Linked DNA regions of Homo sapiens: region 2 is linked to region 1. Evidence: fine-mapped QTL for protein levels in blood plasma. A gene starts in region 1. The other region holds a variant in brackets. All regions are shown on one strand. Distances are between the middles of the regions.

Region 1 (4,384 bases):
TTCTCCTAGTTAGAAAGTTAAACACTCTCTATTCTTACTGAAGTCTAGAGTTAACTAATAAATACTTTTATCCTCCTCCTGGACAACATAAGGACCTCAGGTGACTTTCATTGGTCTCCCTCATTACTTGATATTATTGTTGTATATATCTAATTCTAACTCAATGTATTTTAAAACTCTCACCTAAGACCGTATTTGTTTTTTTGTTTTTTTTTTTTTGGAGGCAGAGTCTCTGTCACCCAGGCTGGAGTGCAGTGGCGCCATCTTGGCTCATTGCAACCTCCATCTCCTGGGTTCAAGCAATTCTTGTGCCTCAGCCTCCTGAGTAGCTGGAATTACAGGTGCCTGCCACCAGACCCAGCTAATTTCTTGTATTTTTAGTAGAGACAGTGTTCTGCCATGTTGTCCATGTTGATCTCTTAACTCCTGAGCTCAGGCAATCCTCCCGCCTTGGCCTCCCAAATTGCTAGGATTACAGGCAAGAGCCACCACGCCTGGACCTTTTTACTTTTTTGTAGTTGGAAAAGGAAGGAATATTTTAATAGCTTTAAAATTGTTTTATTATGATAAAATTTTCATATTATAAAGTTTATCATTTTAATTATTTTAAAGTGTACAGTTCTGTGGCTTTGCGAATATTCATATTATTGTTCAGTCATCACCACCATCCATCTCCAGAACTTTTTCATCACCCCAAGCTTAAACTCTGTACCCATTAAACACTAAATCCCCATTCCTCCAGCCCTTTGCAACCACCATTCTACCTCCTGTCTCTCTGAATTTGACTACTCTAGACACCTCATACAAGTGGAATCATACATTTATCTTTTTGTGATTGGGTTATTTCACATAGCATGTCTTCAGTGTTCATCCATGTTGTAGCATGCGTCAGAATTTCCTTTCTTTTGGCCAGGCATCGTGGTTTATGGGTTTATGCCTGTAATCCCAGCACTTTGGGAGGCTGAGTTTGGATTTGGGAAGATTGCTTGAGCCTAGGAGTTTGAGACCAGCCCTGGCAACATAGTGAGATCCCGTCTCTACAAAAAATAACAAAAATTAGCCAGGCATGTTGGCACGTGCTGGTAGTCCCAGCTACTTGGGAGGCTGAGGCAGGAGGATCCCTTGAGCCTAGGAGGTCAAGGCTGCAGTGAGCCATGGTTGCAACACTGCACTGCAGCCTGGGCGACAGAGACCCTGACTCCAAAAAAAAAAAAAAAAAAAAAAAAAAGGCACAAAACCCCAATAAATAGAATTTCCTTCTCTGCATAATGCTGCTATGAACATGGTACAAATAGCTGTTTTCATTTCTTTGGGGTATATATCCAGAAGTGGAATTGCTGGATTATGTGGTAATTATGTTTAATTTTTTGAGGAACCACTCTACGGTTTTCCACAGCAGCCACACCATTTTACATTCCCGTCAGCGATGCACAAAGGGTTCCAATTTCTCCGCATCTTTGCCAACACTTATTTTCTTTTTTTCCTCTTCTTCCTCCTTCTCCCCCCTTGAAACTTTTTGTTTTCTTCTCGTTTTTGTAGAGAACAGGGTCTCCTTATGTTGTCCAGTCAAGTCTGCCAACTCCTGGGCTCAGGCTATCCTCCTGTTTCTGCCTCCCTAAGTGCTGGGATTTTAGGCTGAAGCCACTGCGCCCAACTCCCTGCTTCTTCAACTGCCATCCTAATGAATGTTAAGTGGTATCCCACAGTGGTTTTGATTTGCGTTTCCCTAGTGATTAACTATGGGAAGCAGAAGTGAATGAGACAGAATTGTGATCTTGTCAGAAAAATCGTCTTGGAAAAGCCAACGTCCAACAGAAATGGTTAGAACAGGGGTCGCTGGCTTCCATCCAGACAGTATCCCTGACCCTTGTTGGGGCAATGTCACAGAGGCTCCTGCTGAGCAGGGAGGTCTGGATTCCACACTCTTCTGCCACTGCCCAGCTCTGGACCTAAGCTTTCTATGGGTGTCAAGAGGACAAGCAGCCGTGCCCATTTGTCTCGCTGCTTGTTTTTTTGGGTGTCAGATGCGCCAGCAGGAGGGACAGTGTGCGGGAAGGTGCTGGTCTGAGGCTGGTCCTGCCAAAGCCCCGCAGGCTCACTCCCTGGTCGTGCGGAGGTGGCTGGTGCTCGCTGGTCTCCTCAGCACCCGCAGGCCGGGCCCGGGGGCCAGGCAGTTGTCCTCTGTGGAGCCTTATCGGGGCCCACAGGCCCTGCTGCCTTGACCCCACCCGGGCCCCAAAACTCGGCCTGGGGACTGCACAAGGCGGGGCTACGCGGGGCAGGGCCCGTCTGCTGGGGGAGTGCGCTGGGCGGCGGCGGGAGGGCAGGGTCCCTGGGCTCCGACAGCCCCTCCGGCGGAGGTCAATCACAATGAAACCGTGTCCAGCGGACCCGGCAGGGGCTCGCCGCAGTCTACCTGGCCACCGTGAAGCCATGACCTGGCGCCCGAAGCTGCCGGCCGGGGTGTACTCCGCGCGGGACCCTGGGCCTCCGCAGGCCCCGGCGGGGTCGCCCCGAGGCGGGCCTGGCGAGTCCAATCGCCCTGCCCGCAGGGGACCCGCCCCTCATGGGTCCCGCCAATCGCAGGGTACGTTGCTCGGCAGTGCTGCGCGGCTTGGCCTATGGGACGGCGCGTTGTTGGGCTGCAGCGCCGCAGGCCGCACCCAGGTCGGGCGGTGGGGGCGAGCGGAGGGGCTGAGGGGCGGAGAGGCCTGGCGGGCCGCTGCTGCGGGCCAGGGGACGGGGGCGGAGCCGGAGCCGGAGCCGACGGGCGGTGGCCGCACTGGGACCCCGGAATCCCGCGCGCTGCCCACGATTCGCTTCTGAGGTGAGGCTAGCTAGCGGGGGCGGCGGGGGCCCGGTTCGGGCTGAGGCGGCGGCGGGGGCGCGGGGAACTGGGCCGCGGTTGCGGCGGGCGGGGGCCGCGGGGCCTGCGGCGGCCCGGGCAGCCTCGGGGGCGGGGAGGCCGCTGCGGCGCCGAGGGCGTCTTGGAGGGGTCCCCGCGGGGCCTTCGGCCTGGGCCGAGCCGGGGAGCGAGGGCGCCGCAGATCTTTCATCGGGATAGGACCCCGGGGACTAGGCTTTTCCCGGGCCGCTCGTTCCTGGCCGGCTTGTGGGCTGCAGGGGTGGGGGCGGAGGAGGACGACCCTGGCTGGACGCTGGTCAGCATCCTGCTTGTGAGACCGGTTCCGCGGTCCGCAGCGCTGGTGGCTGCAAGGTTTGTGTACGGACGCATCTGTCGGCTCTCGTATTTAAAAACGACGGCTTCTGCCAAAAGAGAAAAGCCATATCTGCCGACGGACGCTCGAGAGATAATCGTGGAACTTTATCAGCGATGGGGCTGTTGGTCACCTTTGCCCTCCCTCTCTTTTCTTTTTTCTTAATCTTTTATTTTCGTTTTTTGGGAGATGTCAGAGGGCCTTTCCCTGTTAGGATGACTTTTATCTTTGCTCTTGTAATGGCTCAAGATAGTTGGGAGGTAATTTGCATTCACTTTATGCATACCCACCTTGAAAAACGTATTTTGGTTCGCCTGAAACTGTTGTTGGTTTGAGCATAATTTATGTTTAGAAAGACAAAAAGCAATTGTCATATCTCCAAAGACCAAAGACATAGCTGATAGCTGTATGCATTACTGGTAAGTTAAAGAAAGATTTTTTGTGTGAAAAATTGACTGAGATCTTAATGGGGATAGGAAATAGAATGCTGATAGGTCGACTGTGTCTATGAGTAGAGGCGCCTAGTGAAAACAAGCTTGGAGTGGATGAGTAGGAGTTCAACAGGCACCAGAGAGAGGAGGGCATTTCAGGCAGAGGGTGTGAATTGTATGAAAGTGAGTTTGTAAACTTTGGAGCCTTGAATGGACAAAGGCCCGCGATGATACCTTTTTTTTTTGAGACGGAGTCTCGCTCTGTCGCCAGGCTGGAGTACAGTGGCGCGATCTCCAGTCACTGCAATCTCCGCCTCCCAGGTTCAAGCAATTCTCCTACCTCAGCCTCCCGAGTAGCTGGGACTACAGGCGCGCGCCACCACGCCCAGCTAATTTTTGTATTTTTAGTAGAGACGGGGTTTCACCATGTTGGCCAGGATGGTCTCAGTCTCTTGACCTCGTGATCCGTCCGCCTAGGCCTCCAAAAGTGCTGGGATTACAGGCGTGAGCCACCGCGCCTGGCCTACGTTAAAATTTTAATATACTCCTTTGATTTTGACAGTGGAGAAAACTAGAATAGTAAAGTTGTCTTTTCAGGAAGTGGATGATTTGGGCAGTCAAAACTGCTTTTCAGAGTTTCGATGTGGTTTACAATGGTATGGACAGCTGGTATGATTTGTTAGTTTTCTACTTGTGGTGTCTTTAGGTTTTAAAGTTTCGGAGAGTCGCTGAGTG
Region 2 (4,384 bases), 200 kb after region 1:
ACAGACCATTTGGTAACTTGTTCAATTAACATGTTGAACATCTCATTTTTCTCTTTCTGTTTATAAGCAAGCATGTATGTATTGAAGAGAACTTTGAAATTAAGAAGAACAGTGCTCGCTGTGGCAGCATATACACTAAAACTGGAATGATACAGAGAAGATTAGCATTGCCCCTGCACAAGGACGACACACAAATTTGTGAAGCGTTCCATACAAAAATATATTTAAAAAAAGAAAAAACACAAAATCTCGTCTTTAATATTAGCTGCTGTGCATAGGCAATCCGTATCAACATTTTGTTTGCTATTTATATAATTAATATAGTGATTTATTTCTTTCCATGTCATTTGGCTGCTTAAATTTTTAATGTTTTTTTTGAGAGTCTCGCTCTGTTGCCCAGGCTGGAGTGCGGTGGCGTGATCTCGGCTCACTGCAACCTGCATTCAAGTGATTCTCATGCCTCAGCTTCCCGGATAGCTGGGATTACAGGCACCACCACCACACCGGCTAATTTTTTTTTTTTAGTACAGATGGGGTTTCACCATGTTGACCAGGCTGGTCTCGAACCCCTGGCCTTAAGTAATCTGCCCATCTCAGCCTCCCAAAGGATTACAGGTGTGAGCCACTGTGCCTGGCCTGCTTAATCTTTTATTACATATTTCAGTCATCCATGATATTGTGAAGTTATATTTGGTTTTCGTTCAGTCTCCTGGCATATATTTCCCCAAATCCTTGGAATCTTCAAAGTGATGAATGTCTTTTTTGTATGTTAATGAGGTGGCTGGTGGCTCCTAGACAGCTTCAAGATAGGAGGTGGGGCTGGTCACCAGAAAGAAGAAGGTAGGGTTAGAAGGTTGGGACTCAGCCCTACTCTTGCCCTCTGGGAAGGGAGAGGGGCTGATGGTTGAGCTGATCGCCAATGGCTAATGATTAAATCATGCCTATGTGATGAAGCCTCCATAAAAACCCAAGAGGACAGGGTTCAGAGAGCTTCCGGGTAACGTGGAGGTTTCTAGAGGGCAGCGCACCTCCCTTCTACGGGGACAGAAGCTCCTGTGCTTGGGACCCTTCCAGAACGCTCCCTATGCATCTTCTCATCTGGCTGTTCATCTGTATCCTGTAAAATATGCCTTGTAATAAACCAGGAAATGTGTTTCTCTGAGTTCTGTATGCTGATCTAGCAAATTAATTGAACCCAAGGAGGGGGCTGTGGGAACCCCCAATGTTTAGCAGGTCAGTCAGAATCACAGGCCAAATAACCAGGGGCTTGCAGTTGGCATTGGAAACGGGGTTCAGTCTTGTGGGAACTGAGTCCTCGATCTGTGTGGTCAGGCGCTGTCTACAGGTAGATGCCGTCAGACTTGAATGAGAGGACACCCAGCTGGTGTCCGCTGCAGAACTGATTGCTTGCTTGTGGGTGGGGAGAAGTATTCTGTGTTGATTCTTGAGTGAGAGAACAGGAAAAGGACACTGCGCTTTTCCCCTAGATCCTCAGGGTGGCTGAATATACATATGGAATACGCTGTAGGAGGAGTTATGAATATCTGTGAGGGGAGCAACACCCAGTGTGCAGTTAGCTTCATGCCTCTTCATGGGTCACGTGTTCAAAAAATGTTGGGGTTAGCGTGATCGGAGGATGTGGTTTTCCTCCCTCTGACGTCAAAAGGTGAAGCAGAGGACACGAGAACCCTCACTGCACCGCCTCTGGAGACGGCCACGGCCACTGCAGGCTCTGTGGTCTCTTACCAGGAAGGGAAGCATTGCCTGGCCGTGGCCTCAGATGATTGGCTAAAGGCAATAGAAGAGTGAGATGTCTGTTCTTTTTTTCTAGAGCTGGTTTCTGTTTATTCTTTAGGAAGGCATTCCAGTGAAAGGGTATTAAGGAAGGGGCACACTGAGGCGAGTCTGACCTGTCCTGTCACGGCCAGGAACTCAGTTTTTAAGGTTTCTCTGAGGTCTCCTCGACCAAGAAGCGGTCCGCTCAGTTGGCAGGGGTTTTAGGATTTTCTTATGTACCTCAAGGGAGCAGTAAACATCACATCATAATTTTTTTTTTAACAAAAAAGCACAATATGCACTCAAAACAGTGTTTGAACATTTTAAAGAATACATATTATATACCTCTGTTAAATGAAAAACTTCAGCCAAATTAAATTTAAATGAGTTTAATTGAGCAATGAACGATTCACGAATTGGGCAGCCCCCAGAATCACAGCAGATTCAGAGGGACTCCAGGGATACCTCGTGGTCAGAACAAATCTATAGACAAAAAAGGGAAGTGACATATAGAAATTGGAGGTGAGTACAGAAACAGCTGGGTTGGTTGCAGCTCGGCATTTGCCTTATTTGGACACAGTTTGAACTCTCAGCAGTGTACGAGTGAAGTACGGCTGCTGGGATTGGCCAAGACTCAGGTACTGCCACAGGTGCAGACTCCCAAGTGAGGATGTCAGGGTTTCAGTCTTGTCTACCAATTAAGTTAGGTTGCAGTTCGTCCACAAGGACTCAAATAGAGAAGTATGGAGTCCTTCTCAGGCCATATTTAGTTTGCTTTAACAATTCCACCCTTTTGGTCATTTTCTCAATTTTGAGAGATTGACCAAAACTTTAGTCATTGATGTCACT[A/G]TCACCATCGTAAATGTACTTATTTGGTCCTGAAACCCTCTGAGAAACAGTAGAACAGTGAGTTTTGCAAAGGTAGGAACAAGGACTGAGGGTACCTCCTTATGCTGGAACGTCCTGTTTATAGGGGAATCTGTTAGGATCTATGTGTTTCCTTAAAGTCTTAGTTTGATTATGTCACATTTAGCATGAGTGACTCCATTTTTGTTTGGCTTAGTCTGTTGGGACATAGTGCATGAGCTCAGTCCAAAACAATGGCCTCCCATAATTTTATTTTAATAAATTCCCCTTTCTGTCCAGGTTCTCACTTAGGTGAGTGTGGGCGGCAAGCCACCCAGCTGCCAAGGCAAGACCCCGAGGGCACAAGCTGTTCCAGTATAATAAAAAATATATATATAGAATAAGAATAGTTATACTAGGCCGGGCGCAGTGGCTTACGCCTATAATCCCAGCACTTTGGGAGGCCGAGGTGGGCAGATCATGAGGTCAGGAGATCGAGACCATCCTGGCTAACACGGTGAAACCCCGTCTCTACTAAAAATACAAAAAATTAGCCGGGCGTGGTGGCGTGCACCTGTAGTCCCAGCTACTCGGGAGGCTGAGGCAGGAGAATGGCATGAACCCGGGAGGCGGAGCTTGCAGTGAGCCGAGATTGCGCCACTGCCCTCCAGCCTGGGTGACAGAGCGAGACTCTGTCTCAAAAAACAAAAACAAAAACAAAACAAAACAAAACAAAAAGAATAGTTATACTAGAAATAGATTATAGATATGATTAGATATGACTATTATCAATCATTAGTTTGTGGCATTACTCTATTCCAATATTATAATAATCTTTGTTCTACAATTATAACCTAGGAAAAACCAGGCCATACAGAGATAGGAGCTGAAGGGACAGGGTGAGAAGTGACCAGAAGACGAGTGTGAGCCCTCTGTCACGCTCAGACAGGGCCACTAGAGGGCTCCCTGGTCTAGTGGTAATGACAGTGCCTGGGAAGGCACCTGTTACTTAGCCGACCAGGGAAGGGAGTCTCCCTTTGGCCAGGGGAGAGGGGCGGAGGGGTTAGAGAAGACTCTGCTCCACCATCTCTTGTGGAAGGCCTGACATCAGTCAGGCCCGCCCACAGCCATCCGGAGGCCTGACCATCTCCCTGTGATGCTGTGCTTCAGCGGTCACGCTCCTGTTTCACTTTCATGTTCCGCTCTGTACACCTGGCTCCATCTTCTAGATAGCAGTAGCAGAATTAGTGAAAGTGCTAAAGTCTTTGAAATGCATAGAAGAAATAATGACGTAGGCTGTCTCCTCTCTCTCTCCGCCTCGGCTACCAAACAGGGAAGGGCACCCTGTCCGGTGGACACGTGACTTGCGTGACCTGACCTATCATTGGAGATGACTCACACTCCTTACCCTGCCCCCTTGTCTTGTATCCAATAAGTAACAGGGCAGCCAGGCATTCGGGGCCACTACCAGTCTCCGTGTCTAGGTGGTAGTGGTCCCCTGGGCCCAGCTGTCTTTTCTTCTATCTCTTTGTCTTGTGTCCTTATTTCTGTGATCTCTCATCTCCGCAGGTGAGGAGAAAAACCCACAGGCCCAGTAGGGCTGGACCCTACAGGCGAGAGTGTGACCAAAACTTAGGGCCTTAGCACCACTCTCAGTTACCATCGTTTTGGGTTTCTGGTCTCAGCACGTCATTCATAGGTTACGGTGTCCTCATGGTCACACATTTCTTTCAGCTTCTGCCATTCCAGTTGAAGAGAGACC

Alleles and levels. Positions count from the first base shown, and alleles are read on the strand shown. Strength reflects both the effect of a copy and how common the allele is.
With allele G in place of A in region 2, the plasma level of the protein whose gene starts at base 2,647 in region 1 is lower (weak association).

Evidence for each region. A credible set is the group of variants that fine-mapping cannot tell apart. PIP is the chance, under the fine-mapping model, that this variant and not a neighbour inherited with it causes the effect. Protein levels are from antibody-based Olink assays in UK Biobank. Linkage for the fine-mapping came from a reference panel and not from the study's own genotypes, which makes the PIPs less certain.
Region 2: its variant is the best candidate, but not a certain one, in a credible set for the plasma level of the ADD1 protein (UK Biobank, PIP 0.87).

Annotation. Positions count from the first base shown.
Region 1 is chr4:2,841,198-2,845,581 of GRCh38, forward strand. ADD1 (adducin 1) reads left to right here and starts at 2,647. Exons shown (of 16, transcript NM_001354761.2): 1 at 2,647-2,827. RefSeq lists an enhancer at 1,419-1,930 and silencers at 2,059-2,108, 2,209-2,588, 2,649-2,838, 2,959-3,108.
Region 2 is chr4:3,043,990-3,048,373 of GRCh38, forward strand. It overlaps the pseudogene RNU6-204P and HTT-AS. Among named protein-coding and RNA genes, the nearest start is that of HTT, 28 kb to the right of the region's middle. RefSeq lists an enhancer at 3,721-4,080. The variant A/G (reference allele first, on the strand shown) is at 2,626.